Linked DNA regions of Homo sapiens: region 1 is linked to region 2. A link means that fine-mapping ties the variant in region 2 to the expression of a gene that starts in the linked region. Tissue or cell type: whole blood. Region 2 holds a variant in brackets; the other region holds the start of a gene. All regions are shown on one strand. Distances are between the middles of the regions. Region 1 holds the start of C1orf105 (chromosome 1 open reading frame 105). Region 2 overlaps C1orf105 (chromosome 1 open reading frame 105).

Region 1 (15,526 bases), 32 kb before region 2:
ATATTCAGAATAGTTTCTAAAGGTAATTTCCAAAAACAAAGAAACTTATTGTAACTATTTGGCAATTTTCCATTGGTGTTTTAAATAGCTCTGGCATTGGTGTAAACATATGCTCAATCTGTTTCCAAGATTTTTGTTTTTCTGATGGGACCTTTAAATTTCATATTGAGAAACGTGTTTAGTATTTGGTTTAGAGTGACCTCAAACTTTGCTTCCAAGCACTTCAACACACACCTGGCATAGCCACTTTTCAGACCTGTTACTAGTATTATTTTATATTATGGCAGCCTAATAATTAGAATACATACAAGAGATATTGGCTAAAACTACAACCTTAATTCAAAATTTCTCAAAGTGCATTCCATGAAATCTTAATAAGTTTTACATACACATACACCAATGGTTTTTTGGCCAAATATGCTTGAGAAATAATGACTAAAAATCAAATGTTTCTTTATTGAAAGACTTCACAGAAACCTTAAAATCAGACTGCATTGTGAATCTCCAAGAGATGAGTAATGTCTACATATTTCTCAGACTTATTTGACCATAGAACATCTCACAGATCTAGTGTCCTGAGGCACATGCCTTAGGAAACTGCTTCAGTGGCTTTAAGCCAAAGGAAAAGACATTGAGTGTGATTTCCTCAGTACAGACTCTCACTAACAAAAAGTTGGATGATAAAATCAAATGTACTACTCAGGAGGCTGAGGCAGGAGGATCAGTTCAGCCCAAGAGTTTGAGACCAGATTGGCAACACAGCAAGACCTCATCTCTAAAAAAAAAAAAAAAAAAAGTTGTTTGTTTTAATTAGCTGGGCATGGTGGCTCATGCCTGTAGTTCCAGCTACCGGAGAGGCTGAGGCAGGAGGATCAGTTCAGCCCAAGAGTTTGAGACCGGATTGGCAACACAGCAAGACCTCATCTCTAAAAAAAAAAAAAAAAAAGTTGTTTGTTTTAATTAGCTGGACATGGTGGCTCATGCCTGTAGTTCCAGCTACCGGAGAGGCTGAGGCAGGAGGATCACTTGAGCCCAGGAGTTTGAGACTGCAGTGAACTGTGATCGTGCCACTGCATTCCAGCCTGAGGAGTGGAATGGGACCCCACCATCTCTTAAAAAAGAAAAAGACCAAATGTAAGAGCAACAAGAGCTCTCAACTAAGGGCAATTCATCTGGAGCTCTGGTACTTTGTCAAAGGAGTATCTGACTCTTAAGGAGGAAAGTCACATTGGAACAGGTAGCACAAAAGCAGTTTAGAGACATACATGCATTGAGTCTTAATGAGACTTATGAAGGATTCAGATAATTTTATACCTTACCTTTTCTCTCTGACTCTCCAAAAAAGGGATTCTTTAAATTACCTCCATGAGATTATTGTGAAGGAAGGCATCCAGGTTGATCTAAGATTAATCATCAGAGAAGAATGTTGAAGACTATTCCTATTGCCTTTCTTTCCTCCCTTTCCCAAGCCTTCAGGCTCACTCACTGCTCTGGGTTATTAACTTACCTAAAGGATGGGCAAAGAAAGCAAACAGAGCATTTTTTGTGAGTTTTTTTTTTTTTTTTTTTTTTTGAGACAGAGTCTCACTCTGTTGCCCAGGCTGCAATGCAGTGGTGTGATCTTGGCTCACTGCAACTTCCACCTCCCAAGTTCAAGTGATTCTTATGCCTCAGCCTCCCCAGTAGCTAGGATTACAGGCGTGTGCCACCATGCCTGGCTAATTTTTGCATTTTTAGTAGAGACGGCATTTCACCACATTGGCCAGGCTGGTCTCGAACTCCTGACCTCAAGTGATCCGCCCACCTCAGCTTCCCAAAGTGCTGGGATTACAGGCATGAGCCACTGCACCTGGCCTTTTTTGTGAGATTTTAACAGAAAAGAAAAAAGCTATAAGGAAGACCTCCTCAGAGATCTGGCCAGAGGAATGTCACCATAAGACCAAATTTCAGCGTTGACATAGAGCCAAAAGAATGAGGGTAATTCATCATTCTTGTTAATAATTGAGTCTTTTATATATAAATTACACCCATGTTCCAGATACAGCTTTCCAATCTCCTTTACCTGATTTGGCCAAAACATGCTGCTTTGAAGTTATTTTTCAGAATGCTTAAGAAAATATAACCTGAAATTATAGTCTTGATTAGGTAAATTTGCTTATATGTTGAATACTAGGATGGTGAGCTTAAGAATTTGTTAGCAACTCAGTATTCCAATTTAGTACTGCAACTTTCATATGGGAGTGGCAATTGTATGAGGTACCTTTGTAGCTCTACATGTAAAAAGCCCAAATATTTGCAGCACTTGCCTTTAAGCATTTCGGCACTGTGTAAGTCATATAAAAATTATGCAAAAGAAAGAGCAAAAACCCCAACTGCCCATATCCTTAAAAGAACTAATTTTGACCCAGTAAATGGTATCATCAACAACAATGCTTTTTCAGCAATGACAGGAAGGGTAGATACAGTAAAGTGAAGATGAAAAGAAAAAGCTGTCTGAGGATATAAATGTCACCCTGATGTTTCAAGCAAACATTCTAGCTGTCAGTGGAATATATTCCAAGACATAAAGTTTCTGATCCTGTTTCTGGATCAGAACACCAAACTAGCTCAAACAGGAAAGTGTTTTGGCATATGCTAACAGAATGTCGCTTCAGCACTGTGGACTTGCTGTTCAGTTTAATGGCCCACCTCCCCACCCTGCTGAGGTCATTAAAGTGTTCTAAAGCCCCTTCAGAACTCGAAAATAGTTTCTGTTTTCTGGGCAGGTGATAAATCTCATTGAGCTCGACAGAAATTTAATTACACTTTCTTCATGAAAACACCAGGGATACCCATTACCTGGATCTCTAAAGCTAAAGCCTTGCAGACCCCCTAGCCCCTGCCCCGGCCCTGAAGTTGAAAGGTTAGGTACCAATAACAAGTTCTCCATCATTTAAATGGATGGGAGGCCTCTTTAGTGTAGTCAGCTTAAACTGGACTGAAGGAAAATTGATTTTGGACTTTGGGGAAGCTAAGATCATTTTTTACCACTGCCCAGAAATACACCAGTCAGTTTGGCTCCACTAACATCTCATAGAAAATGAAAAAGAAGTTTTTCTGTTTTTGTTTTTGTTTTTTTTTTATAGACTTCATTGCTCCACTCACAAGCAAGAATAAGATGTGTAACAAGAATAAGATGGAAGTGAGCGTTGTTGAACACCTGGATAAGAAGTCAAAGAGAGTAGGGTCTTGAGATAATCTCACCATTCTACAGCTTCCTATAATGTTGAGTTCATTAATGGTTTGGTTAGAAAGGGGAAATTAAAGTGTAGACTTCTGCCAAAAACCAGAGGGAAAGCTTTATTTGGCCTGCTGTTTTCCTACTTACAAAGCTGTTCATTGCAATGTAGGGTTTACTGTATTTTCTCTAGCTGCAAATCATCTCCCTGCTGAACACAAGAAAGGCTGATGTCAAATGAAGCACAACTTGGACCCTCATTTCATTATCCATAGGTCTGATGAAATGCAAGCCAGCCTAGGGAAATGGAGAAAGATCCAGCAGACCAGATTTCATTTACCTTGGGCCCACTTCAGAACAAATCAGAAATACAGTTATACCTAGCTCTTAGACAGAGGGAAATCCTAGAAAATCCTGGGGTTGCCATGGACCAGACCTTGCCTCCTAGTTTCCCTAGGCCTGAATCCAGGCTATTACACACCAGGACTACTCACCTGGAGCAAATTCTTATTTACAAATCCTTTTTTTCTGAGATCAACCTCTGGCATTCTCTGCATTGTGATTACATTGCTCATTTGATCTCTTGACACCTTCTAATTTACCTCACTTAAAAAAAATTTAACCTGCCATTGGCTACATCAACTCCCTCTCCCCCTATGGAGATTTCACAACATTCATTGAAATCTTTGGAAATAACTGAGTTTCACAAAATCAGGGTTGAAAATCAAATATACAAGTTATAAAGGTATTTGGCTCGGGGACTAGTCCCAGTTCTCCTGAATAAGAGTGCATGGATTTATCATTCCATGGTGCAAAATAAGAAGCTTTTTGAGTGAGCTCAAATGGCTCATACCTAGAACATTGCTAGTAGCCAGGAAAAGTCCTGGGAACTGCTAACTTAGCTATGTGATGTCCCTTCATTTCCTTTGCATGTCTGCATGTTTTTGTGTGTGATTTGAATTTGACTTTTGTGAGCTATTTTTGCATGCTATTATTTGGGTTTATTTTATAATTTAAACATTGTTTTCTTCCTCTGCATCTGTGTCTTTCTTTTTGTTATTTTGTTTTGTTTTGTTTTGTTTTTACTAGGCGACCCCCTCCTGCAGTTCCAGGACGACCATCCTAACCCCCATCATTCATCTCCTTTTGTTTCCAACAACATGTCTATCCATGGTATTTAAAAGCTTTTCATTTGCACTATATGTCGTATGTACATAAAAACTTTTATTTTTCATCCATGTGTATAATAAAAACAAAGTTTATTCTATATAAAAATGAAGTGTGTTCTGTTTCTTTTTTTAAAGAAGACCTAAATTTAAAAAAGAATTTGTTTCAACTAAAACAAGGTAAGGTGAATATATTATGTGTTCCTCTAAGAAGCTTAATTCAAAAGTTCTTAAAGCATTGTGATTTAAGACGGTCTTTGGTAGAGACTAATAATCTACCTTCAAGTGAAATTTCTGTCCAATAGAAGAATAAAAAGAAAAAGAAAATTTATGGATGTCTAGAAAAAACACAGAAGACTAAATAATTCCAATCCACCTCCAGGAATCCCATTTTTACTTATTATTGCACCAAAATATTTTTTCCTATTATTGTTTTTCTAAACACTCTTAAGGGAGATAAAATGTAAGATCATAGAAGAAACTGTAGAGCAAAAACACATAAACCTCATAAATTCTATATGGCAAATGTAAGGGCGAAAAACCACATCATTCAGAATAAAAGTACAAGGCAAGGAAATGTTGCCACCTTGAGAAGAAAGACTCTTCATGATGTCAGTAAAGCACTAGAAAAATGGAGTCCATATAAGTTTGAAGGAATAGAGAACTTTTTATTCCTCTATCCTCAAATGGTAATTCTAACACTAAAATTTTAATCTATAATTTTTTAACAAGCATCCCAAAGATGTATCCAAATAAAATGTTTATTATTTAGGTAATATAGTACATTCCACCAAATATGTGATCTGAAGCCTTCCCAAAGGTTTAAGATTTAATTCAGAATTTTATTTTTTGAAAATTTATGTGGCCTAAAATAGAACTTGAAAGTAGTCCTTCTCAAATGAGATCACTTCTGAATGTGCTCCCCTTCAGCATATTAAGATGACAGAAAACTACATGACAAGAGAGTCAAAAAAATCATTCATCAGTTCTATTTACTTCACATCTGACCTAGGCAAGCCCTGGCAAAGGAGGTATTTGGAAGATGTGGGCAGGAACCCCCAGTTGTAAAAGGGAGAGTCCTCATTAGTAATGCTGTTTCTTCGGACCACAAATTTTTTTAAGGACTGAGTTCTCCACTCAAAAATGAAAAATCAGTTTCTTGGTTTAAAATGTTCATATGGCATGTTACATTATTTTAATTGTATCCCCGGTCCAGTGACTACCATTTAAAATCAGTGATAACTAAGAAAGTTCAAAGGCTCCAAACCAAGGCATCAACTGAAGCTCATGTATAGCAGGAAGGAGGTGACTTGATGTAAAATAGCACATAGCATGCAGTCTTTTGTCCTTTCCTTCCCCTCCAGTCCAGGCATTTGATTTTTAAATCAATATTCTTAGTGGATAGCATTCTTCATCCCAATAGACAAAAATGTACCTAGATGATTTCATACCACCTCCCCAAATGAAAACCGAAGTTGTCAAAGAGAAGGTTTTCTTCAATTCATTTTTTAAAAGTGTTTGGTACTTTTCCACTTTGTCTTAAACATGGACTTATTTTTATATGCAGTGTTACACAGTTTAGATGTATAAAACTTAAATTGACCTGATGAATGATGAGAAGGAAAAACTCCAGTCATAACAGAATGAAATGACAACCTTACTCAGTTTTCCTTAACAAAGAAGTGTGTTCCCTTCCTTACATTCTATAGGCAAGAAAAAAGAGGGCAGGGGAAAGGGATGGGGGGCAGCCTGGAGTAAAATTAAATTATGCTAAGATTTGTTAATATGTATTTAGTAAATAGTATTTCTATGTTTCATAATATACCTTTCCCCAACTCTTCTTACCTCCACCTCCACCCTGCTATGTTTAATAGACTTGAAAAATTACTCCCTTTTTCAGAGTTGATCATAACTCAGGATAGTCAGGAAGAGCCAAACTATTATGCCTTTAGTAAACATAATATTCCTTATATATTTTCATTCCTTTATTTATGCATCAAACATTTCTTGAATTCATGATAATGTCCTGGACCCTGGGAATACCAGAGAAGTAACAGAATAAAAGTAGCTTACAAAATAGCTAAATAAGCAATTACAATGTAGTGCTACAATAAGAGAAAAGTTTGGTTGTCTTTCCAGGGAGAACTGTTCTGACTTCAGTACTGAAGCAGCTATCTGAGTTTTAGTATACTGTTATCAACTTTACCCAACACATGCTAATGTTCCAGAACATTGTGATTTTGACTTCTAACAAAGAAAGGAATACTAGAACTCATTTCAGCCAATCAGAAACTGAGCTTTTCATTCTGAATGGAATTATATGATTCAAGATGTAAATCACACAGATGTTGGTAGAGAAAAAGGCATACTGGTATTGAAACTGTAAACTGGCCTGTTTACTTCGTCTCCTAACAAAAAACACTTTGGATTCAGGTTCTCCACAGCAGTCTTCCACTGGCCACAGTGAGGGGAGCTAGGTTTCCCCAGTCTCCAGCTAGAAAAACTCAGAACATCTAAAGATCTGAAAGATGGAAAAAAGAGAACTAAAGGTAGGAAAAAAATAAATGAAACTTCCAATTCTTTCCTTATGGGGTTACCCTGGTAAATGTTTGTATGCCTTGGAGGCCACATAAACATTGAGGGGTGTTTCAACAGACATCCTAGAAGTTGAAAGCCAAAAGAAGGTAAGGAAATAACAGCTGATGTTCAGTTACAGGTGAAGATAATTTTAATGGGTTTGGGGCATGATAAATTTCAATGCTCTTTATCGTATAGTTTGGAAAAAATGTTGTACTTGCCAACATCTTTTATAACTCAGCATTTAAGTATGATTTTTTTAAATCCTCAGAAAATTGATACCAGATTCTTTAGTGCAGTTCCCTGAGATTCTGAAGTAAACCTTCTCAACTGTGAATGCACTTTAAAACAATGAATCTCAGTCACAGGAAGTTAAGATTGCTGAGAAAGAAAAAAAAACTTGTATAGACTTTTATAATTACTAGGGTCTAAATCTGAATAAATCACATTGAGCTTATGACACTGTATGTTTCCTATTTAAAGGGATATACTAGCTGTCTCTATTACCATAGTACAGGTGCTCCTTGACTTATGATAGGGTTACATCTCAATAAACCACCACAAGTTGAAAATATTGTAAGTCAAAAATGCATGCAATACCCTGATGAACCCATGATAAAGTAAAAAAATCCTAAGTTGGGGAGGACGCAGAGCAAGATGGCCAAACAGAAGCCTTCACTGATTGTTCTCCATGCACGAACATCAAATTTAACAACTATCTACACAAAAAAGCACCTTCATAAGAACCAAAAATCAGTGATCACAAAGTGATCACAGTACCTGGTTTTAACTTCGTATTGTTGAAAGAAGCACTGAGGAAGATAAGAAAGACAATCTTGAATTGCTGACACCACCCCTCCCCCATCCCCTGGCAGCAGCCACATAGTGTGGAGAGAGAATCTGTGCACTTGGAGGGAGGGCACAGCGATTGTGGGACTCTAGAATTCAGTGCTGCCAATACGGGGCAGAACTTAGCTGTTGCCAATGGAGGGACCATTTAGACCACCCTTAGCCAGAGGAGAATTGCCCATCCCAGGTTTCAGAAACTGAGTTTTGACTACCTCCACCACCATGGGCTAAAGTGCTCTGAGGTCCTAAATAAACTTGAAAGCCTGTCTGGGCCACAACAACTGCAATACCCAGGCAAGTCCTAGTGCTGTGCTGGGCTCTGAGCCAGTGGACTGGGGAGCGCACGATCTAGTAAGACACCAGCCAGGATGGCTAAGTAAGTGCTTACAGCACCCCTCCCCCAACCCCAGGCAACACAGCTTATGGCTCCAAAAGGGACTCCTTCCTTTGCTTGAGGAGAGAAGAGGGAAGAGTGAAAAGGACTTTGTCTTGCAACTTGGATACCAGTTCAGCCAGAGTAGGATAGGGTACTGGGCAAAATCCTGAGGCACTCATTGCAGGCCCTAGCTCTTGGATGACATTTCTAGATATACCCTGGGCCAAAAGGGAACTGCCTTGAAGGGAAGGACCCAGTCTTGGCAGATTTCATCACATGCTGAATAAAGAGCCTTTGGACCCTGAAAAATCAGTAGCAGTAGCCAAGTACTACATACCGTGGGCCTCAGCTGAAACTCCGAAATGCACTGGCTTCAGATGTGACCCAGCACATTCACAGGTCTGGTGGCTACGAGGAGAGACCACTTCTGCTTGAGAAGAACAGAGGGAAGAATAAAGGGGACTCCGTCTTGAGCTTAGGTACCAGCTTAGCCACAGTGGGAAAGAGCACCAAGCCAGCTCTTTGGGTCCCTGATTCCAGTCCTTGGCTCTTGGATGGCATCTCTGGACCTATTCTAGGCCAGAGAGGAGCCCACTGCCCTGAAGGGTAAGTCACTTTCCTGGCAGCATCCAACACATGCTGGCAGAAGAGCCCTTGGGCCTTAAGTGAACATTGGCAGTATCCCAGCAGTACTCCTCATGGGCCTGTGGTGGTGTTGGACATGAGAAGAAACTCCTTTGCCTGGGGAAGAGCAGGAAAGGGTGGGAAGGACTTCAGTGGTTCGGGTGCCAGGTCAGCCACAGTAGAATACAAAACCAGGTAGATTTCTAAAGTTTCCAACTCCAGGCCCTGACTCCCAGACAGCGTCTCTGGACTCACCCAGGGCCCAGGGGAACTTGATTCCCTGAAGGAAAGGACACAGCCTTGCTGGTTTTACCACCTGCTGATTGTAGCGCCCTAGAGCCTTGAGCGAACATAGATGGTAGCCACGTAATAGTTACAGTGGGCCTTGGGCAAGACCCAGTGCTATGCTGGCTTCAGGTCTGACCCAGGGCAGTCCCAGTAGTGGTGGCCACAGGAGTGCTTATATCACCCCTCCCTTAGCTCCAGTCAACTCAGCACAGGAAGAGAGACTCTGTTTCTTTGGGAAAAAGTAAAGGAAGAGAACAAGAGTCTCTGCCTGGTAATCCAGAGAATTATTCTGGATATTATCTAGGACCACCAAGGTGGTACCTCTATGAGTCTGCAAGAGCCACAGCGTTACTGGGCTTGGGGTACCCCTTAATGCTGATATGGCTGCAGTGGCCAAAAACTTAGATCATAACACCCAAGTCCCTTCAAATACCTGGAAAACATTCCGAAGAAGGACAGGTACAAACAAGCCCAGACCAGACACTAACAAGCATCCACAAGCACAGGACCATCCAGGAAAACATGCCCTTACCAAACAAACTAAATAAGACATCAGTGACCAATACTGAAGAGACAGAGATAGTGACCTTTCAGACAAGGAATTCAAAATAGCTGTTTTGAGGAAATTCAAAAAAATTCAAGATAACACAGAGAGGGAGAATTCAGAATTCTATCAAATAAATTTAACAAAGAAATTGAAATAATTAAAAAGAATCAAGCAGAAATTCTGGAGTTGAAAAATGCCATTGACATACTGAAGGATGCATCCATCAGAGGCTGTTAGCAGAATTGATCAAGCAGAAGAAAGAATTAGTGAGCTTGAAGCCAGGCTGTTTGAAAATATATAGAGGGGACAAAAGAATAATTCCAAGTTGAACCATTGTATGTCAGGGACCATCTTTATATATTTTTGTTATTGTTTTTGATGCTACAAGTTACTATTGAATCTAAATACTGTCAACATATTAAGATCAGACTAGGTGGCAGGCTATTGGATGAGTCAACACTATAAACTCCTACTCCCATCCTCGGTTTTTAATCAAATCAAGTTTTATCATACATTATGTCACATCCCAATTTTCAGCCCCAGTTCACATCTTCAATGAACCTCATGAACATGAGCCATGGGTAGATAATAAAGAAAGCCTAAGCAAGCCGCAGAAGACCAAAGAGACTTAAGGATCTGCAAGGCAGTAACCAAGAAGTCACTAATGTGGGTTCTGCCTCTCAAAACAGCTACTAACAAAGTATTTTGATGTTCCACATAACATTATCAAAAAATTAGCCTCTCAGGCTTTTAGGGGTTATATTCCCTTCTCTTTTTTATTTTGTTTTTTGAGATGGAGTCTTGCTCTGTCACCCAGGCTGGAGTGCAGTGGCACGATCCCGGCTCACTGCCACCTCTGCCTCCCGGGTTCGAGAGATTCTCATGCCTCAGCCTCCAGAGTAGCTGGGACTACAGGTGCCTGCCACCACACCCGGCTAATTTTTGTATTTTTAGTAGAGATGGGGTTTCACAATGTTGGCCAGGCTGGTCTTAAACTCCTGACCTCAAGTGATCTGCCCACCTCAGTCTCCCAAAGTGTTGGGTTTACAGGTGTGAGCCACCGTGCCCGGCCTCCTTGTTCTTATCTCTGAGGGTACATTCAGAAGGCAATGGAGAGCAAGTTAGAGTCAAAGAGATGATTCCTTCTGCCTCTTTTTTTTTCTTTTAATGACAAAAATATTCTCAGCTACATCCACAAAATCTGCTCAATGTCTTAAAGATCTATTTATTTTGCAACTTAAAAAGAGTGTGAGGCCCACAGTGTTCTCACTGACCAGAGTTCAAATGTCACTCGGGCCCAGCACAAGGCCACAGGGCCAGCCTGGAGTGGCAAGCAGTGAGCCAACAGAGCTTGTAAAGTAGAAGCAGCTCCTCTTGAGCCAGGTTTCGTGGGAGCCTGAGGGACCTCAGCATTGGTAAAATCAATTTGTTCCATCATCCTAGTAGTATTATGGTCAAAGAATTACAGAGCTAGTCTGTTTAGGACAGAAGACCTTAGGATCATACTGGATGTTACTTGATTCTCAATGCCAGTTGGTTCCATTTGGTGGCAGAAAAGGCCATTTGTCTTTCTAAGCCCTTTCCTTGGGTACTTTTACCCCAGCATTACCTGATGGGCATAAGGAGGCAGCACCAAATAGTGTTGCCAGACTTGTGGTGCTGAGCACATGCCAGCCAATTGGGAAATGGCTGCTTCCTGACTACCCCACCTCTGGGGAATTATCTCATTAATCACAGTAATATACCTGGAGGAAAATGATGTTTTAATTTTTTGATGATGGTTATTGTTCGTCAAGTTACACCAACATTGATGGCATCTGTGAGTTACGAAAGGAAAAAAAAGCAAAAAGTATAGGCGTGGTCTAAGCTAGCAGGCCCAACAAGCCTTCAGCTGTTTCTAATCTGCCTCTCCCCTGCAGCTGAGCCCTCTTGGTGGCCAAAGGAGTATGCCTTATCAGGCCCAACCTTCCACAGAATGTTGGTCAAACCCTGGCTCTCACCTAAGCTCTGATCACTTTGCCCAAAATCAAAATTTTTAGAGCACTACAATGACACTGCTTGCTATTAGAAGTTTGCACTGTTCTGAGGAGGTTTGTGATATTATCCCCAAAAGGTCCTTGTCAAAATGCACATAACCCAGAGAACTAGCACATTAATCCCATTAGTGAGCAATAATATGCTCATGAGGATGTGAAAAGGCCTACATTCTGAGAACACATCTCCTTCAAGGTGAAGAGGAAGCCCCCAAAATTCACCCCTCCCTACCCACCCACTCACACGCTCACTACTACTATCTGCCTTACACTTACTGGAACTTATGTCATTAACCTTTTATCCCAGCCTGTGTCAATCATCCAAGAACCCCTGGATTCTAGGCCACTCTCCACGCTAATTTCCATGCAGTTCTGTATGTTCCTATTCTGTCTTCCCATCTCTCCCAAATTTCTGTAACCCTTCCACTGTCTCCTCTATAATTCACTGCCCATGATCAACAAAATTCCCTGTATCTTCAACCTATTCTCTGGATATGCACTTCACAATCTTACTCTAACAAACCAGAGTTTCTCTGAAAGGACTGCCTCCCCTGCATCCTTTTCCAAAGGTGGCAGCTTGTCTCCCACAGCCCTCACACTGCTGAGCCTGAAGTGGGGTAGTTATCCTCATTTTTTGTTTTGTTTTCAGACCATTCTTCTTTCCTCCTCGCTAAAACCCCCAGCTTTGAACCTCATGGCATCAGATTACAGCACTATCTACATGACCCTATGTGTTGCTTTTAACTACCAATGCCCAATTCATTCTCCCTTATTTCTTGATGATTTTAGCTCCTGTTTCAATGTCACTCCCTCCAGTGATACTCCTGTTTTAATTCTTGGGGATTTTCATACGCTTCTTGGTAATCCACCCTCACCCTGCCTCTCATTTTCTTGACTTCACTCTTTCAATGGTCTTTTTTTTTTTCTTCTACTTGAGTGCTAAGTAGTGAGATCTTGCAATGATCTTGCTCTCCACTCTATCTCAGCTACTCATTTCCAAAATTAAAACCTTGTCTTTCCCCACTCTCTCATCTCTATATCCTATCTTTCTAGCCTACTTCTATTGTTTTAATCTCTTGGATCTCCAATCTATTCACCTTTATGCTGTCCCTCAGCCCTCTGTCCTTCACCCTTCTTGAGGTTCACTCTCCTTACCCAACTTAAATTGAATGGTCAATCATTGTCATCATGCCCATGCATATATACCTGTCTCCCTTGCCCTTCTCTCAATTTGTTAAAACCACCATTCTGGGTAAATCTAACTCTCTACCTACTCTGGTTTGCACCCATGTAACTGTACATGGTCTGGAAAGCACACACACAAGCAAAGAACAAAGCCAGGATAACTGGTTTCACTTTAAATTAATCACCACCATATTCAAGTGAGCCCTTAATACTGCCAAGCAGTTACACTAAGCATCCCTTGTTCATTCACTCTCCCAATGTCCTAAGTTGTTTCACACCTTTTCTCTCACTCCCCTATCCTCAATCTCAGCTGATTCCTTGCCTCCAACTTCCCTGAGAAAATTGAAGCAATCAGAAAAGAACTCCCAAAGACTCTCATCACCTCATCTACCCATTTACTAATATCGGTATTCATCTACTCTGTCTTCTCACTTGTTCCCATAGATCAACCATCCCTGCCCTTGTCGAAAGCCAGGCTTTGCACTTGTGCACTTATGTACTCCAGAATATTTCCCCAGCAATTCTTCCCTCTCTCACACCATCAACTAACAACTCTCTACCATTTCATTTCAATCAGGGTGCAAACATGCTATCATTTTTTTGGTCTTCACTTTCCCTTTCAGTTTCTGTCCTATTTCCTGGCTCCCCTTTGAAGCAAAACTATAAAGCTGTCTATACTTGCTGCTAAATTTCTCTTCTATTTTCTCTTAAACCCACACCAAACAGGTTTTTATTCCAGCACTCCAACAAAAACCTGCTCTTTTAAATGTAAAGGTCAATTTTCAGCTGTCTTACTTGCTTTATCATGTTTTTATCTGATCACATTTGATCACCCACTCTCTCTGGAGACACATTCAGCACTTGGTTTGCAGGACACAGAATTCTCTTGCTTTTCCCTTGCCTCAGTGGTTTTGCTGTCCAAATCTTTTTGCTTCTTCTTCGCCTCAACATTTTACTTTGGAGTTCTTGGTCCTTTTCTGTCTATAACCATTTCCTTGGTGATCTCATTCAGTCTCACAGCATTAAATATCATTTATATTGCCAACAAATCCCGAATTTATATCTGAATTTCATCTCTCTCAAACTCCAAGGTCATATTTCCTATATTCCCTTCAACATTTCAGGCTGAATGTCTTCAAGACATTTCCTATCCCACGTGCACCAAACTAAACTCCTAATCTTCCTCCCCAAAATCTCCAGTTACCATCCCTCTGCCCCCACCTCAGTTAACAACATATCCATATTTCAGTTTGTTCAGGGGAAAAACCTTAATTTATAACTCTTCTCTTTCTTTCACACTCTACATCTAATACATCAGGTAGCCCCACTGTCTTTACTTTCAAATTACATATAGAACGTGACTATTTTCCGCCACTTCCTCTGCCATCCTCTGTTTTGAGCCACCATTATCCCTTGCTTGTATTACTGCAAAAGCCTCCAAATGCTTCTTCCTGTGTCTACTCTTGCCCTACAGCAACCAGAATGAGCCTTTCAAAATATGTATCTTCTTTTTCTCCATGACCCTCCAATGGCTCCTATCTCAGAGTAAAAGCCTAAGCTAGTAGCTTACAATGTCATACATAATCTAGCTTCCCACGTTACCTCTACGACTTCGTCTTCTGTTGCTCACTCCACTTCAGCCACTCCTTGCTATTCCCCACACATGCCAGGTATTCTTCTGCCCAAAGGTTTTGTAGCAGCTCTTTCCTCTGCAGCTCTTCCCTCTGACTGGGATGCTCTTCCCCAGGGAATCTGAATTACTCCCTCACTTCCTTCAAGTCTTTGGTAAAATGTTACCTTTCCCATGAGACCTACTCTGACCTCTTTATTTAATGCTATGCCACTTTTTTCTTTTTTCCATAGCACTTACTACCTTCCATTTATGTTTATTATCTATCTCCTCCTGCTATAATGTCAGCTCTACTAGGTCAAGAACCTTTGTCCTTTTTATTTACAGATATATTCCAAGCACACAGAACAGTATTTGTCATACAGTAAGTACTCAAAAAATATTTATTGACAATAAATTCCTGAAGCCACACACTATAAAAATCTGAATGGTAGAAGGTGAGTAGAGGGAAGCTTATGTAGATACTAAATATTTTGTTGGATTTTGGGGGATACTGTTGGATACTGGGGGAAGAGAATAAGGGATAAGGGAACGATGAGGAATTTGACAAAGCATTAAAAGCAACTGCCTACCATTATCCTTCAGTCCTGGGCTCCATTCAGGCACAAGCACAGGCTTTGTGTAAGAAAAGCAAAGTATTAGCCCAAGTTGGTAACATAGCCTTAGGCAATACTTAACCCACTCTGAGTCTCAGTCTCAACTGTGAAATGGAAATAAAACCTCTTACAGGATTGCTGTGAGAAGTAAATACAAATATACACACACACACACACACACACACACACACACAGACACACACACACATACACACACAACGTGCATAGCACGTTACCTAGCACGCATTGGGTGCTCTAAAATACAGGTGCTATTATTTATCAAACCCCAGTATGCTATTTACCTCCTGAATTTATGGAGACCTCAGACTCATTAATTCAGGTGTAGTTATTTCCCAAACCACAATTCAGCAAGAATTTCAAGACTCTAATTGCATCTCTTATAAAAAGGGAAATCAATCACTTCCACAAGATGGCACT
Region 2 (15,526 bases):
AGAGGTTCAATAAACTCAAAGGCCTATTTAAGAAACAAAAGTACTAAGTGATAGAGTGCTTATTAAGAGTTGTTAACACTGCATGGATCAGCACGAGTAAGGACAGTCTAGCATATTTTAATTGAGGGTGGGACACAAACTCACAGGCCCATGACAGTCAGATGAGGGGCATAATGAGTAAAGCTGGCCAAACAGGACTGCAATGAATGGGAAATCACCTCCCCGCTTCAGCCCACCCCCACGCCAGCAGTGTTACCTGCAGGCATGTGAGTCCAGAGGCCAGATCCACTGGGTCTTCTAACAGTACTAGAAATCTGGATGTTTTATGTGAAATTGCTAGTGTTTGATCTAATAGGGTAATATCCCACCATCCCATACTACCCCCATGCCCATTAGACCTGCCCCAGCAGCGAAGAGCAAAGTATCCTTGTGCATGGCTCTCTTGCCCCCAGCTCCCTTGGTCTCTAATTACACAAGCCTTTGGCAGAGGGTGGAGATCAGGGAGAAGGGTAGGCCTAGAATACAACTGGGCATCGGCAGCACCTGTTCACTTTCATAGCCAGGTCCTGGAGGGTCAGAGCAGACAGTCTGTTGACAGCCAACTGGAAAGGGAGTGGGCAGTTTTTCCTCCAGCCAGCCAAACCTAAGCTAGGCACAAGGAGAAATTACCTTAGGCAGGCAGTGAAGCTCTACTCATCGCTATTCTGGGAGGATTGGGGTAGCAATCTTAATTCTTGTTTAGAAAAATGTAATATACCTACCTCACAACAAAGGTGACCGAACAGCACCTTTGAGGTGCCCTGAGCTCTCAGGAGGACAAGACGGGAATGAAAAGTCTTTTGAAAGGATGGTTTAAGTATCAAAAGATCTTAAGGATTAAAAGCTCCTCATGTGGGCCAAAGCTCCGGGTTCCAAGCTGTTTATTTTTGGCAAAGCCCCTTACTGAGACTTTGGGAGAAAGTTCTCAATGTGCCTTAAGCATTACATACCCTTGAGCAAAGAGTTCTAATGCAGAACAGTCTGAAAAAAGATAAAGGAACATTTAGCCAAATATGCTCAGAGTAATTCCAAGTGTGCGCAATGGAAACACACCTACAGGGTTGGAGGAGGTGAGGCTGGGCTGTAATAAGAAGTGCCTGTACTGACCCACTTCCTTCAAGGACTCTCTCAGGTAGGCCTGACAATTTCAAAGCCACACTCATCGTCAGTCTCCAAAGCCCTTCAAGTCACACTAAGGTCATGTTTATATAAGATTATTGTATGCTGAAGGAGTTCTAAACTGGCCTCCTGGTCTCTGCTGGTCAGCATTTGGGTGACAAGTCCAAGAGAGCCTATTCCCATATCAAAGACAAAGACCCCGAGGGCACTCATGTCAGACCCACCATCTCTGGTCTTACAGGGCCCAGGGAAGTGTGAGGAGAAATGAAGCAAGAAATGTCTCATGAGCATCAAACTCCTTTCACATGCCTTTGTTTTAAATAAACAATGGACAATGAAATCTTCCCTCATTAGAGAGGAGGTGTGTTCCCGGCAAAACTGCCAGCATTCTGAGTTTCTATTTCTTGGATGCCAGGGGCATGAATGGTGCAACACACACAGTTTATGATTATCAGGCCCCTGCAGGCCTTGGCCCCTTACACTGTAATGAAATGAACCACAGTGCCAAGTGAGACAGAGCGCAGGCAGGTCACCCTGTAAAAGGAACTGGTGTTCTTGCAACATCACTGCTTCAACTGCTAACTAGAAAGAAAAAATGTTCCAAAGGAAAAGAATGGGTGAAGGGAGAAGACATTCTGTGGGAGGAAACAGGTGGATTGTTTCAGGGTGCAAGGACACAAACTCCAAGAAGTCAGCCCAGGTACGAAAGGGGACAGGTGCAGGTTAAACATCAAAAACTTGAGTGCAGACCCTTTCAAAGAGGAAACCTGGGATTCATTTCGCTCATTACACATCTACTGTTGTGAACAATCTTTATCCTGCCTTGTTTGTACAGTGTCTGACAATCCAAAATTGGTTAGTGCAAAACAAAAGGGACAGAAAAGCCAAAGTGACATAGGAGGGCAAATCCATCTTTTGGGAGCTCCCCAATGGCCTGAGTGCTCCAGAACTGGAGTGGAAGATAGCTCCCTGTGGTGTCCCTTGTATTCTCTCAGAAACAACCAAGGGCCTGGCTCTTCAAACATGGGACTGCGGTTCTAACGTTCTCTTGTTTTAATTACTTAGATATCCTCATACCTCTGCGACTTTTCTGACTTCATCCAAGAAGAATATGAATTTGCCAATTTTGTTTCAAGTTCCAGATGTTTTATCTAAGGTACTAAAAAATTTTTGTTGAAATGAAACCAACAGCAGTTCTAGAATGACATAGAATATGAATACATGTCCCATCTCCTTAGCACAGCCCTGTGCTTGGTACACCATCAATGTTCAATAAATATTTGTTAAATGAAATGAATGGCCCCACCCCCCTCACTATGTCTCAAGTGCCTTAGGGTCCCAGTCCACTAGAACTAAGAATACAGGCATAAGGTTAGAATCAACAAAACAGGAAACTAAAAATTAGTATGGAGGAATCTGCCCCAAGACTTCCAGGGAATGCCTATCAGCCTGTGACTGGAACCAATCTGGAGTCTCTACTGCCTCCCCCAAAGGATTGCTTATGTCTCCCACCTACAACTCCCTACACCTGTGGAATTTTACATTAAAAACTCCTCATTTCCCCTCCACCATGACCGGCTGCCAGGTGACCCTCGGTGTCACTGTGGAGCAAGCACACAGGCTACAGTGCTTGGGTAGTCAGAACCTCCCTGAGGTGGAGAAAGAGAGAAAATATATGGTGAGATAAGCAATTTTTTCACCTGAAAAATTGCACATTCCTCACAGGGCTGTCATAGGCAGTGCCTGAAGCAGCGTCCTAAGGCACTCGACACGGTGCCCCACCCAGAGCAAGAGCTCAGTGAATGTGAGCCACAATTATTAGGAGCCCTGGTGTCAGTCAATATATGTTTACGGAGGCCTTTGTATTTGCTTTAATACATCAGAGATGAGTGAGTCAGCCGCAGCTACACAGATGAGTGAGCAGACAGGACAGGGACACAACTGAGAATGCGTCTCAGAAACAGGGCACAGCACTTGTGAGAGAAGGTGGGAGCAAAGGTTACCCCCAGGTTGGGCAAGCAGAGTGGAAGTGAGGGAATGATTCAAGAGGAAGTGGCATCTGCACTGGACCTAGAAGATACTGTTTTCAAGTGGAGGGAAGAGCCAGGGGTGGAGGAAGAACTGGAAAGAGAAGAGAAGATTATCAGCAAAGAGGTGGAGACTGAGTGTGCAGGAGGAAATGCCTGAAGAATATCAAGGAATTCTGAGCATACATGAAAGGGAAACAAGGACGCGGCTGGGCCCAGCTAATGCACACAGGGCCCAACAGACAAGAGCAGAGAGGACACATTGAAGGTTTTCAACACCGGAGTTTCAGGGTCCAAGCTTTGCTTAAGAGTCATCTCTTAGTCCCCCTAACACCCTGGACAGGCAAGTAGGTAACATGGCCACCATGACGTGCACTGGGTAGAGGTGGGGGATGAGCGGGGAGGCAGGACTGGCTTAGCAATTGCTGCAGAACCAGCAAGAAGCCTTCCAGTCATCAAGTCGCTGTGAACTTCCTATTTAGACAGGTCTCACCTGCCGCTGAATGCCTCCTCATCTCAGGTTTGTTCTGGGTCTCTGTACTGTGGCAACCTGGGCACTAGGACACCAGGCCCCAGCCTGGCTGGAGTGGAGAATGGGGAAGGAAAGCCAATGCTAACGACCAGTAGGAGTGAGAGGCCATTCTCCAGCAGGGTATAGCGGTTTTTGTGGCTGCAATATTCATAGTTAGCCACTAGATGACAGTTAAGAGCAACAGCTTCCAGCTGCGCAGCCCAAAGGGCTCCTGGGAGGCCAGTTTCCCGGCTGACCCGTGAGAAGTCCCAAATAGGTTGCTCTTATTGGGAGAGAACACAGGCCCCTCAGCCTCACCCTCACTCTCATCCTGTTAGGGGCTGACCCTCCACTGATTTGCACATGAGAAAGAGTCACCCCTGCAGATTGAAACACAAGTAGGGAACCCGGGATCCTTGCTCTGTTGGGGCACCAGGCCAGTACCTCCAGTCATATTCTTTCCCGTCACACAGACGTCCTCAAATTTGAATCTGGCTCCCAGAGTCTACTGCGTGTATGAAGGCCTGCACGTATGTGCCATGAGGTAAACGTGGATTCAGCTGGCAGCTGCTCCCTTCTGGAAAGAAACTGTTGTGTTTCAAGGGAGTAGAATGTACTGTGGACAGGATCTCTTCCTTCATTCTCTAAATCAGGGACCTGACAAGAAGCTGCTGGCAATCCGGAGGCCAACTGGAGACCCCGGACCCTGTGCAGAGGTGCAAAGCTCCTGCCACCTGGCTGCGTTCCTCTTCACCGTCACAGGTCAAAGGGCAGAACTTTAAACACCCACTTACTCCTCCCCTGCCCCGGAGCAGCCCCGTGCCTGAGGCAGGTGCACGTGTGCCTGGAGCAGTATTTCCTAGTGACTAGACAAAGGGGAGACAGGCTCAGAGACACAATAACAGGAAGAGGGAGACAGAAAGCAAGATAGAAACACACACACAGAGATGAGGGACAAAAAACACAAGACAAAAGGAGAGGCAGGTCTGTCAAAGAAGAAAGATTTTTAGTGAAGACAAATGAAGCCTAAACATTTCCTCGTTTAAACATCTACTGTGGAGAAGCTTCTTCATTTTCTCCTGCCATTTGCAGGCATCCACTCACGACTCCTCAAGATGCTGAGAAACAGAAAGGTGCATCATGATAGTTGGCTAACTGGGCCAAAAGGTGACTGACTCAGTGATCCAAGGCAAAGGAACAGCAGGTGTGTGGGGGTGACCCGGAAAACTGCAGCTGGAGACTCTGAAATCTCTTTGCCCACTTGCTGGTACTGGGTGTAAATTAACTAGAGCTCCTCAGTTACTAATAGATTATAAAATGCCACTCCACCCTCTCAATTCCTGCCCCCACTCTCTCTCTACTCACTTTGATCTGGGTTTGTTCTTCCAGTCTAATGAGTCAGAGTGAAGATAAGAACACTATTTATTTTGCTTTTAGCAGACCTGTGGCAAAAAGCCCTGGCTAAAAAGACTGTGCAGTAGCAGAGGCATAGCTGGGGAAGATGTATAGGATGTTTACTTTCTATTTTCTCACCACTAAGAACTCTCTTTTTATTATTTCTCTCACATTGACTAAATTTTCAAAGCTCATAACTACCAAGGAAACTACCTCATATACTCCTAAGTCATTTTCATATTTATATTGCTTATGTTGATCTAGTGCATATAATTACAAATACAATTTTTAAAGAGAATATTAAATGCTATTGACCTAAAATAGTGATGGTAATAAAAATCAAATTTAATAAGTCTGAATGTAGGGATATGGATATTATTTTTTATACATTTTGGGTTTTTTTAAGTATATTCAGCTTTATTTTTTTAAATGGCTGATATTTTCAGATAGAAGGAACATGTGTAATATCATAAGGTTTTTTTTGAATATTGAAATTGTTCTTTGAGCACTACTTTTGGGATTCTATGTGGTAGAAATAATTCTGCCTTTATATGGATTCTTTTTTTTTTTTTTTTTTTTTTGAGACGGAATCTCACTCTGTTGCCCCAGGCTGGAGTGCAATGGCACGATCTTGGCTCACTGCAACCTCCGCCTCCCAGGTTCAAGTGATTCTCCTGCCTCAGCCTCCTGAGTAGCTGGGATTACAGGCGCATGCCACCACGCCTGGCTAATTTTTGTATTTTTAGTAGAGAGGGGGTTTCACCATGTTGGTCAGGCTGGTCTCGAACTCCTGACCTCATGATCCGCCTGCCTTGGCCTCCTAAAGTGCTGGGATTACAAGTATGAGCCACCATGCCTGGCCTTTATATGGATTCTAAGAGTTTACTCTTCCCCTGAGGAAACATAATCCTTTTTATCCAAAAACTTTCTAGCCGACTGAAGTTCAATAGATGTGGTATTGGACAAATCTCTTAACCTTTCTGGGTCACAGCTTTCTCCTGGGTAAATTGAAAGATTTGAACCAAGTGTCCTATCAGGTCTCTCTCAGTTAAGTTACAAGTGGGAAGGAGAAAAGAAACAGAGGTGTTGAAGGAAAGGACAGAGGCAAATGTGTCAGTACTCCTCACAGGGTGCTTGTGAAGCCTGTTTTAATCACAAGCTGGTGCTTACATTTTTGTTTTTTATGTGAACAGGTGTGTAAGAGAGAGAAAGAAAGGGAGCGAAAGAGAGAAAGAAAGGAGAGTAGAGGGAGAGGGAGATGGAGAGAAATATATTTCTCTGTTTCTTTACCAAGGGTTCAAGAAGGCCATGGCCTTGGGCCATGAGTCAGCCCTTAGACACCGCAGCAGATATTGTCCTAGGGTATGAGGATGTTTCCAATTGTCAAATGTGTTTTTGGCTTCTGGGGACTGGCTGAAATCTGCATCATACCTTGGCCAGGCTACACATAGGTTGCTGTCACTCTCCTGTCACAACTGCCATCTGCTATCCAGAGGACAGCTGCTTGGGAAATGAGGGCCCCATTAACATTCCAGTGCCTCTGGCTCTAGACCTGATAAAACCAGAGCATTGTACTGTGAATGTGGACAATTCCCTCTCCATTCCTGTTATTGCTGCTGAGCTGGTCGTAAGGAAACCGAGTGAGAAGGGAATGCAACAGAAGAAAAAGACCAAAGACCTGGGTTTCAGGGCTGGGAAAGAAAGCAAGACAGAATGGAGGAAATGAGGCCTGCAGGACATGGCGTCTCAAATGTTTGCGTCGCCTTTAAAGTAGCCTGTCACAGCTGCCTTCCACGACTCTTCAATGCCCTCATCCCTTCTCCAGATAGAAATGGAGCAGCTCTTCTTGGAGGCCAGGCTTCAGCTGATAGCAAGTCTGAGGTAGAGTACAGCACAGATCAAAGATTGCTTTTTACCTTTAAATGTAAAGTGTAAAGGGACAGGATTAGAGCATCCGCCTCTGTCTTTTTGAACACAAAGACCATTATCGGTAGGGGAAGGGAGACTTGGAGAGTTTATATGATTGACAAAAGTCACCCAAGTTGTTTGTGAGCCAGGACTGGAACAGAGCTTTTTGGGCGTCTAGCCAGTGTTCTTCCCCAGTGCATTACATAGAATGAATTTGTTGTACTACAACACTAATGTTCTGTAACGTTTCCCTGAAGACCGTGTTACAATAGTGATCTTCATTTATATATGTATTTTTCGTTTTATATATTTAGGTTGATTGTGTCTATATTTAGACCTCATAATTTAAATTGCTTACAATGACTCATTCATTTGCCCAATGTTTGTTGAATACTTGCTGTGTGCCAGGTTCTATCATAGGTTCTAGGAATACAAAGATGTGTAAAACATGATTCTTGCTCTTAAATATAATAACTCTCAGCCCGGTGGAGGAAATAAACACATTTAAAATCAAGAATAGTGCAAATACAAAGAAAGCTAGACCAAGTTTATGATGCAATCAAAGAGGCAGGCACCCAACTGAGGTTAGGAGGGTGAGAAATGGTAGCAGCCCAGGAGAAAGGTTTTCTGAGGATGTAACACCTACACTATGTCTTAAATGAGTAGCTATCAAGGCCAGGTGGGACAATATATAAGCATTTCATCCCTCAGATTCTAAGAGATGACAGTCATTATGTTATGGGACTCTGTACTCACATTTACAGTTGTCATTAACCTAGCAAGATCTTGCAATGCACTTTGGGGATCTTGCAAATAATATCTGTTGCTTGATTTGCAATGAGCTCTGAGATTCCACTTCCTATAGGGTCTAATAGTAGTCTTAGCAGAAACCAGAAGTCTGGAAAAAGGTGAAGGAAATAATTTCAGTGAAGAACTTATATCTCTACTAAAAACAAACCTGCCCAAGAATTCTTCCATATCTGCCTCCCCTTGTCCAGGTCTTCCTCATCCCTTCAGACTGAGTACAAATTCCACTTCTAGGAAGCCTTTCCTGATTTCTCCAATCAGAAGTGGTCTCTCTGTTTTCTGAAGGCACAGAGGTATTAGTGCCTCTTGTATGATATCTAGTGTGTCCTACCTTAATTGCAGTTTCAGAAATGTACCTCACTCTCATACCTCAAAGATGTGAGGGATGGAGGGAGGAGCTGGAGCTTCAGGGGATATCACCCCCAGGGGTATCAGGAAGACATGGTAGAAAGTTGAATCAGCCCAAAGCAGAGGAGTCAATATCCACAGACATTTCCTCTCTAGTCTCTCTTCTCACTCCATTCAACCTCCCACCAGACAACCTGTCCATCCCAACCTACATTCACTTACCCGAAGCTGATTTGCTAGATTATTCTTCCAGGTTGTTGTATAGTGTTTCCTGGGCTTGCAACACCCTCACCATCCTTGTTCACTCCACAAACACCTACCCAAGCATTGCCTGTTTTTTTTTACCCTTCTCAGACCCTTCCCTCTCTGCCCCACCCCCAGTTAAGCTCAATGACCCCTTTCAGCTTCACTGGAGCCTCGATATATTTCTGTTGTAGCACCTTCAACACCATCATACTTCTTGATGTATAGGCTACTGGATGGTGAGCAGCTTGAGGTCACAAACTATGTCTTATTTATTTAAATGTCTCCAGTACCTAATGAATGGGTAAATGAATGAATTTGTATTCTTCTTTTGTCTTCCTTAGAAACTTCCTTCCAGAAACTTTGCTTTATTCGTCGGTATGACCCCCGTCACAGCACCCTTTACTTGGTAGCCTCACAATAGATGTTTACTGTTGAATGAATGAATCTAGTTATTCACACACATACTTTGACATACCAACCCACAACATTGTAATACTGAGTTGATTCTTTTTAGAATGCCCTATAAAAATGAAGTGTATTTTAAATGTTTCTCAAAAGAATCCAACTTTGTTAACAGTTTTTAGCCCTCAAACCCCCCATGATGCATCACCTAAGTGCCATATGTCTCTCACAGGATGAAGCTACTTGCAGAACAATCTGGCAAAGGTCATCCTAGGAGCACACCTCAGGAACTCCTCACTTTCTGTTCCTCCTCTTTCTGTTCCCCACACTTCCCAGGGCAACAGGAATGGGTCAAGGCACACCATGTAGTGATGGGCCAGCAAGCGGATCAAAGGAAAGAGAAGACTTCAGTCAATAGTCTTCTCACTGTGGCTTTCCTCTTCCCCATATTCTGCACTTTCTGTGACCATATCTCATGACTGATGTCAATGTGAATGAGGAAGGTTAAGAGAGAATCCCAAACATAAGTTTAGCCTCAAGTTCCTATATGCTTCCTAAGCAAACTTTTATCAGAGATGCAAATGAGAACCTCCTGAACCCAGGTGTAAATGCTCCAAAGTCCTCTCTTTAATGCTTTTGCAGAAATGAAGTCAGAATAAAAACCAGTGGTTACAGTGAGCAGACACGGTGCCCCTCCCCTTCCTCCACTGATTGCTTCTTCACCTACTGAGACAGCCTCTCTTTCCCAGAGGATTGAGGGGACTCAGGACTCACACACAAGCTTGAGTTCTGCTTGTGGCTTCAATCATTCTGCTTAGGAGGTACAGAAGGGCCAAATGGTGCTGGACCATGGATGCATGAGAGCTGTTTCTGGCCCAGAGTTAAGGCATGAGAAAGGAAGGCGATGCTTAGGAAAGGCCCGTGAAAAAAAGATTTGCAGAAGAGAAGTCTTCTCTTCATTCTTTCTTAGGCCATCAGAGATCCTCAGTCTATATGGTGGAGCCTTTTTATGAAATGGAAAAAATGGCCCACCTATAGGAGAATGCAACCCCTCAGACACAGGTGCTCAGGCTGGAAAGTAGAGACCCCACTGAATTTCAGGCCCCAGCCATCTCTGCCAGCTGTCTTTACATGTATACCACTGCATGCAGCAGCCTCAAGACCACCACCTAGCCTATGTCTCACTCCCTCCTGCCTAAACTCTCGGTACCTACCAGCTGCAGCACACTCCAGATTCAACACCCACCCTGGATGGGGCTGAGACCAGAGTGCCCATCTCTGTTTTACGGAAGGAAAAACTGTTACCTCTCTCACCCCTCCACTGCTTTCCTACATCTTTGCTGCCCTACATGCCCCACCATTTCCTCAC[C/G]TCTCTCTGTCTCTCTTTCCCCTCAGGCCAGGAGGAACCAGTGTGACTCCATGCTGCTCAGAAACCAACAGCTGTGCTCCACATGTCAAGAAATGAAAATGGTAGGCAAGGGGGAAGACAGAAATGGGCACAGGCATCTCAGGGTGCAGCACTGCCCTTCCCAGCCAAGCCCTGTGGGGAGAGATAGTGACGGGGCCCGTTGCAAGGAGGGCCTAGATAAAGGCTGCCAAGGAGGAACTGTTGGTCCTGGGAGCAGCATCGACTGACAGAACATGATAAACCTTCTCCGTTTCAACAAGCTAAAGGGTAACCAGGATAGATGGGCCAGAGTAGAGATGCAATGAGACACTTCGCCTTGGGCTCCTAAGTAACTACAGCCTCTCAGAGGCTTAGGGGATTATGGAGCTCCTTCTCCCTCCTTAATGTAGCCCCCACACAACACATAGGCTCACACTCATTTCTCCACCGTTACAATCAGGAGACAAACAGCTTCATCTTTGGGTTTACTGTTAATTTAGGTAGCACCTCAAGAGAAAGACTGGGGAGAGAGTCTACAGTACTTTCTAGGTAGTCAGGGGCGGTGTCACCTGCTTTGGGTATTTGTAACATATAGTGGAGAATGGTGGTAGGGGAGGAATATTAGGAAAAGAAAGAAGGAAAGCAAGGGAGATGTGGAGGGAACAAAGACAAACTTCTGCCATGCCATCTATCACAGTTGCTGAATCAGAGGCCTGATTCAGGAAGGATGCTAGACTAGGCTGGAGTTAGGCCTTCGGTAATTTAAGAATTAGAGTTAGCGCTGGGATGGTTGTTAGCGTCAGGGTAAGGAAGAGGCTTTGGTTAAGGGTTAATTTAGCAACATGGTTAGGTTTGAGGTACGAGCTGGAGAAGGGTTTCTTCAACTCTGATATCCTATAATTCTCCTTTGACTTGGGGAGGAAGGTGGGGCTAAATGTGTAGGCTAAACGTGCTTTAAAAGAATGGAAGAAAAATAGAAGATATAAGAAAAGCTCCTTCACTGAGTTCATGGCAAGTCTTAGGTCCAGTCGGATGTGAAAGAGAGTGGCACTTTTGTGAAATTTTTATGTGGGATTTACAAATTTAACTGAAGCTACCGGCAAAGCTGCACCTTGATGTTGCCATCTATGTTCATTTTCTACATAATTAGGGTCACTGTGTTAAATATTAGCATTGGCTGGAGTCTGGGAAACTAGGATTGGGATTTCTCCTGGTCTTATTCCTGGAATCCCTTGTGTCCACATTTAGAATGCACCAACCCCAGGCCTAAGCTGGCCTTGGCCAGCTGGCACACTTGGGACATCAGCAGCCATCCTCTTTCTCAAGACCTCTTCTCTGACCTTTGCCCTTGTCCAGGAATGATAGAAGTGGAGCCACATGCTGCAATTTTACCATTTATTGAAGCTTCTAAAAGGAAGGGCTTCAAACACAAAAGTGCCCAGGGACCCTTCTGTACTGCTGTCAGAACCTGGTGATAAACTACAGAAAGTTAGAAAATAAACATGAAATATCCTTGCCTCACTCTATGCAGTAATACCTCAAAGTCCTCCCAAGGGGAGGGACTGCAGGTCTGCTGTAGTCACTGTGATACCCCTTCTTTCTCAGCAGTGAGTTGAATAGAAATACTGGGGAATATATAAAAAGACTCCTAGGAATAGAAGGGAACTTCCTCAACCTAATAAAGAGCAGCTTGAAAAACTAACAGCTAACACCCTACTTAATGGTAAAAGACTGGATACTTTCCCCTAAGATTAGAAACAGGGCAACAATGTCTGCTCCTGACACTTCTACTCAACATTTTACTATACATTCTAGCCAGAAAGATAAGAAAAAGAAATAAAATCCATCCACATTAGAAAGAAAGAAGTACAACTAGTCTATTTGCAGATGATATGCTCTTATATAGCGAAAGTCCTAAGGAATGCACAGAAAACTATTAGAGCTAATAAATGAGTACAGCAGTGTTGAGGATACAAGATCAGTATATAAACCTTAATTTCTATTAATAGCAGTGAACAACCCAAAAATGAAGAAAACAATGCCATTTGTAATAGCATCAAAAATTATTTAGGAATAAATTTAACACGAGAAGCACAAGAGCTATACAATGAAAAGTATAAAACATTGTGGAAAGAAAATTTAAAAGGCCTAAATAAATGGAAAGAACCCCATGTTTATAGATTGGAACACTTAATATTGTAAAGATGAATATACTCCGCCAAACTGATCTACATATTTAATGTAATCCTCAAAATCCCAGATGCCATTTTTATAGAAATTTGCAATCATATCTTAAAATTTATATTAAAATGCAAGAGATCCAGGATAGCCAAACAATCTTTAAAAAGAAGAACGAAGTTGGAGGTCTCATACTTCTTGATTTTAAAACTAACTACAAAGCTATGGTCAGGACTGTGTGGTACTGCCATAAAGATAGACAAATAGATAAATGGAATAAAATTGAAAGTTCAGAAGTAAATTCTTATGTTTATAAACAATTGATTTTTGACAAAGGCACCAAGACAGTTCAATGAGGAAAGAATAGTATTTTCAATAAGTGGTACGGGGGCAGCTGCATAGATACATGCAAAAGAATGAATTTGTACCTCTTCCTCACACCATGTACAAAAATAACTCAAAATAGGTCAAAGAGCTAAATGTAAGACCTAAAACCATAAAACTCTTAGAAGAAAACATAGGTATAAAGCTTCATGACCTTGGATAAGGCAATGGTTTCTAAGATAGGACACCCAAAGCACAAACAACAAAAGGATATAGATAAATCAGTCTTCATAAAAATTTTAAACTTTTGTTCCACAAAGAACACCATCAAGAACACGAAAAGACAACCCAAATATTTGCAAATCAACAGATGAAGGATTATGTCAGATAAGGGACTAGTATCTGGAATATATAAGGAACACTTAAAACTCAACAATAAAAAGGCAAACACTCTAGTTGAAAAGTGAGCAAAAAGTTTCAATAGACATTCTCTAAAGAAGATCTACAAATGACCAATAAACACATGAAAAGATACTCAACATTATTTGTTGTAAAGCAAATGCAAATCAAAACCACAATGAGACACACTTTCCATCCACTAGGATGGTTGTAATAATAATAATAATAAAACGGTGGATAATAACAAGTGTTGGCCAGGATGTGGAGAAATTAGAAGCCTCAAAAATTGCTGATGGGAATGTAAAACAGTACAGTTGCTTTGGAAAACAGTTTGGGAATTCCTCAAAACCTTAGACACAGAGTTACCATATGACCCAGCAATTCCATTCCTAGATATGTACCCAAGAGAACTAAAAACATATTCACACACAAAATTCTACAAGAATGCACATAGCAGCCATATCTTAATAGCTGAAAAGTGGAAATAACCCAAATGCCTAGGGCTTGATTAATGGATAAACAAAACGTTGTCTATCTATATAATAGAATATTAATCATAAAAAAGAATGAAATACTAAAACATGCTATAACATGGATGAACCTTGAAAACATTTTGCTAAGTAAAAGAAACCAGATGCAAAAGATCACATATTATACTGGTTCCATTTATATGAAATGTCCAAAATAGGAAAATTCAGAGACAGAAAATAGACAGTGGTTGTCAAAGATTGGGGAGAGGAGTGAGTGAGAAGCAATTGCTAATAGGTATGTGGTTTCTTTTTGGGGTCATGAACTGTTCTAGGAATAAACAATGGTGGTTGTTTTACAACTTTCTGAATATACTAAAAACTACTAAATTGCACATTAAGATGGTGACTTATGATACATGATATCATAAACACCGATAAAAAGAAATTAGCACTAAATAAAAGCACAAAATAGATGAATCTCAAAAAAATGTAAATAGGACCTGGTTATGTAACTACTCATATTCCTATGTAACCTTGGGCTAGAAGCTCAATCATTCAGTGCAGAAGAAATACCTGCTGACAGTTATGGTTGTGAATCACCAGTGATATTTGCCTTGGTTTTATCTAGGCTGTGTTTCATCATGTCTCTGCTCCAAACAGCTCATCTTCCCCTTAATGCACCTATTCTGTAGTCCTTCTGTTATCTGCATTACTCTCTAATTAACACCTTCAAGCCCCTTAAAAGTAGGACCATCAAGCTAGACAACTGTAAACAGATATTCTCTAACATATATTAAAAAATAGTTTCAAAATAAATTAAGTTTATTTCAACAAATATTGATTGATTGTCTGCCATGGGCCAGGTACTTAGGTAAACTACAAAGAAAAAAAAAGAAATACATAAGACCTGTCTTTAAGGAGTCAACAAATAAATAAATAATGACAACAGAATGTAATCAATATAAACAGAAATAGATCTGATGGGGAGTGAAGGGGCAGTGAAAGTAAATATCAAGGAAGTCTTCCTTGAAGAAAAAGACTATTCAGGGTTTTCAAGAATGAATAGGAGTCTCCCACAGTACACTTTTTCTCAAAAACAAAAATCCTGTCTTTGGCAGGCAGCTTTGTTCTGATGCAGCCCCTGTAGCACAGTTCATTCATACAATAGCGCTAGCTGGATTTAGGGGATTTAGAACAGCAATCATGCTATTCAGGAGGAGTTACAGTTTCCTGCATCTTCCCTTGGAGCAGAGTCAACTTTAGATAAATTTTTGAATAAAGCAGTCTGTCTCTGGCACATTCTCAGCCACTTTTATGTTTAGAAATCTCTCCTCAGGTTCTTACTAAAGCCTTGGCTGCCCCCACTATGCCCAGAGGCTCTTTGTTACCAGATCAGCTCCTTCCTCTCCCTCTCCCATCCTTTCTTCAGCTAATGAGTTAGGAGAACAAGCTGAGTAAACATAGTACATTCTTGGCATTTGTATAGCCTTTGCATTCAGTTTTTTTGCTATTTTCAAGCACCTCTAAAGGTCCTTAATACATTGTAATTTGTAACTTTGTTATGTCATAAACTTAAATCATGAGTCACTTGGTACAAGTCACTTAGTGAGTAGAGTAGTTGAACACCTGCACCCACATCTTTGTAATTGTCATTTTATTATTATAGCTACAATAATTTTCGAGAAATAACGGAAAAATGCTTCCTAGTGAAAACATTCTTAAAAGAAAACCAACATCTAGTGCTAGGAACAAATTTGGAAAAGTTCAAGAAAGTGATGTTTCTTAACCGAAAATACTGTAACTGTACATTGATTTTAGGCCTATATGAAAGACACCTTTAAAATTTCCAGTGTGCTTCAAGGTGGGTTCATTCATTCACTAATTTGATCAAAAATATTTCTTAAACAGACATCGTGTTAGCAGCTGGAAATACAAAAATAGAGACAAGGTCTATGCCCTCATGAAG

Evidence for each region.
Region 1: C1orf105 starts here. The variant in region 2 is fine-mapped to the expression of C1orf105 in whole blood (INTERVAL, PIP above 0.99).

Annotation. Positions count from the first base shown.
Region 1 is chr1:172,413,975-172,429,500 of GRCh38, forward strand. C1orf105 (chromosome 1 open reading frame 105) reads left to right here and starts at 6,711. Exons shown (of 7, transcript NM_139240.4): 1 at 6,711-6,932. The coding sequence starts at 6,912. LOC102724528 (a long non-coding RNA gene) reads right to left here and starts at 9,382. Exons shown (of 3, transcript XR_001738294.3): 1 at 8,523-9,382. It also overlaps a transcript of DNM3 not described here. RefSeq lists an enhancer at 14,854-15,376.
Region 2 is chr1:172,446,218-172,461,743 of GRCh38, forward strand. C1orf105 (chromosome 1 open reading frame 105) reads left to right here. Exons shown (of 7, transcript NM_139240.4): 3 at 2,224-2,314; 4 at 10,198-10,272. Among named protein-coding and RNA genes, the nearest start is that of PIGC, 9.9 kb to the left of the region's middle. The variant C/G (reference allele first, on the strand shown) is at 10,172.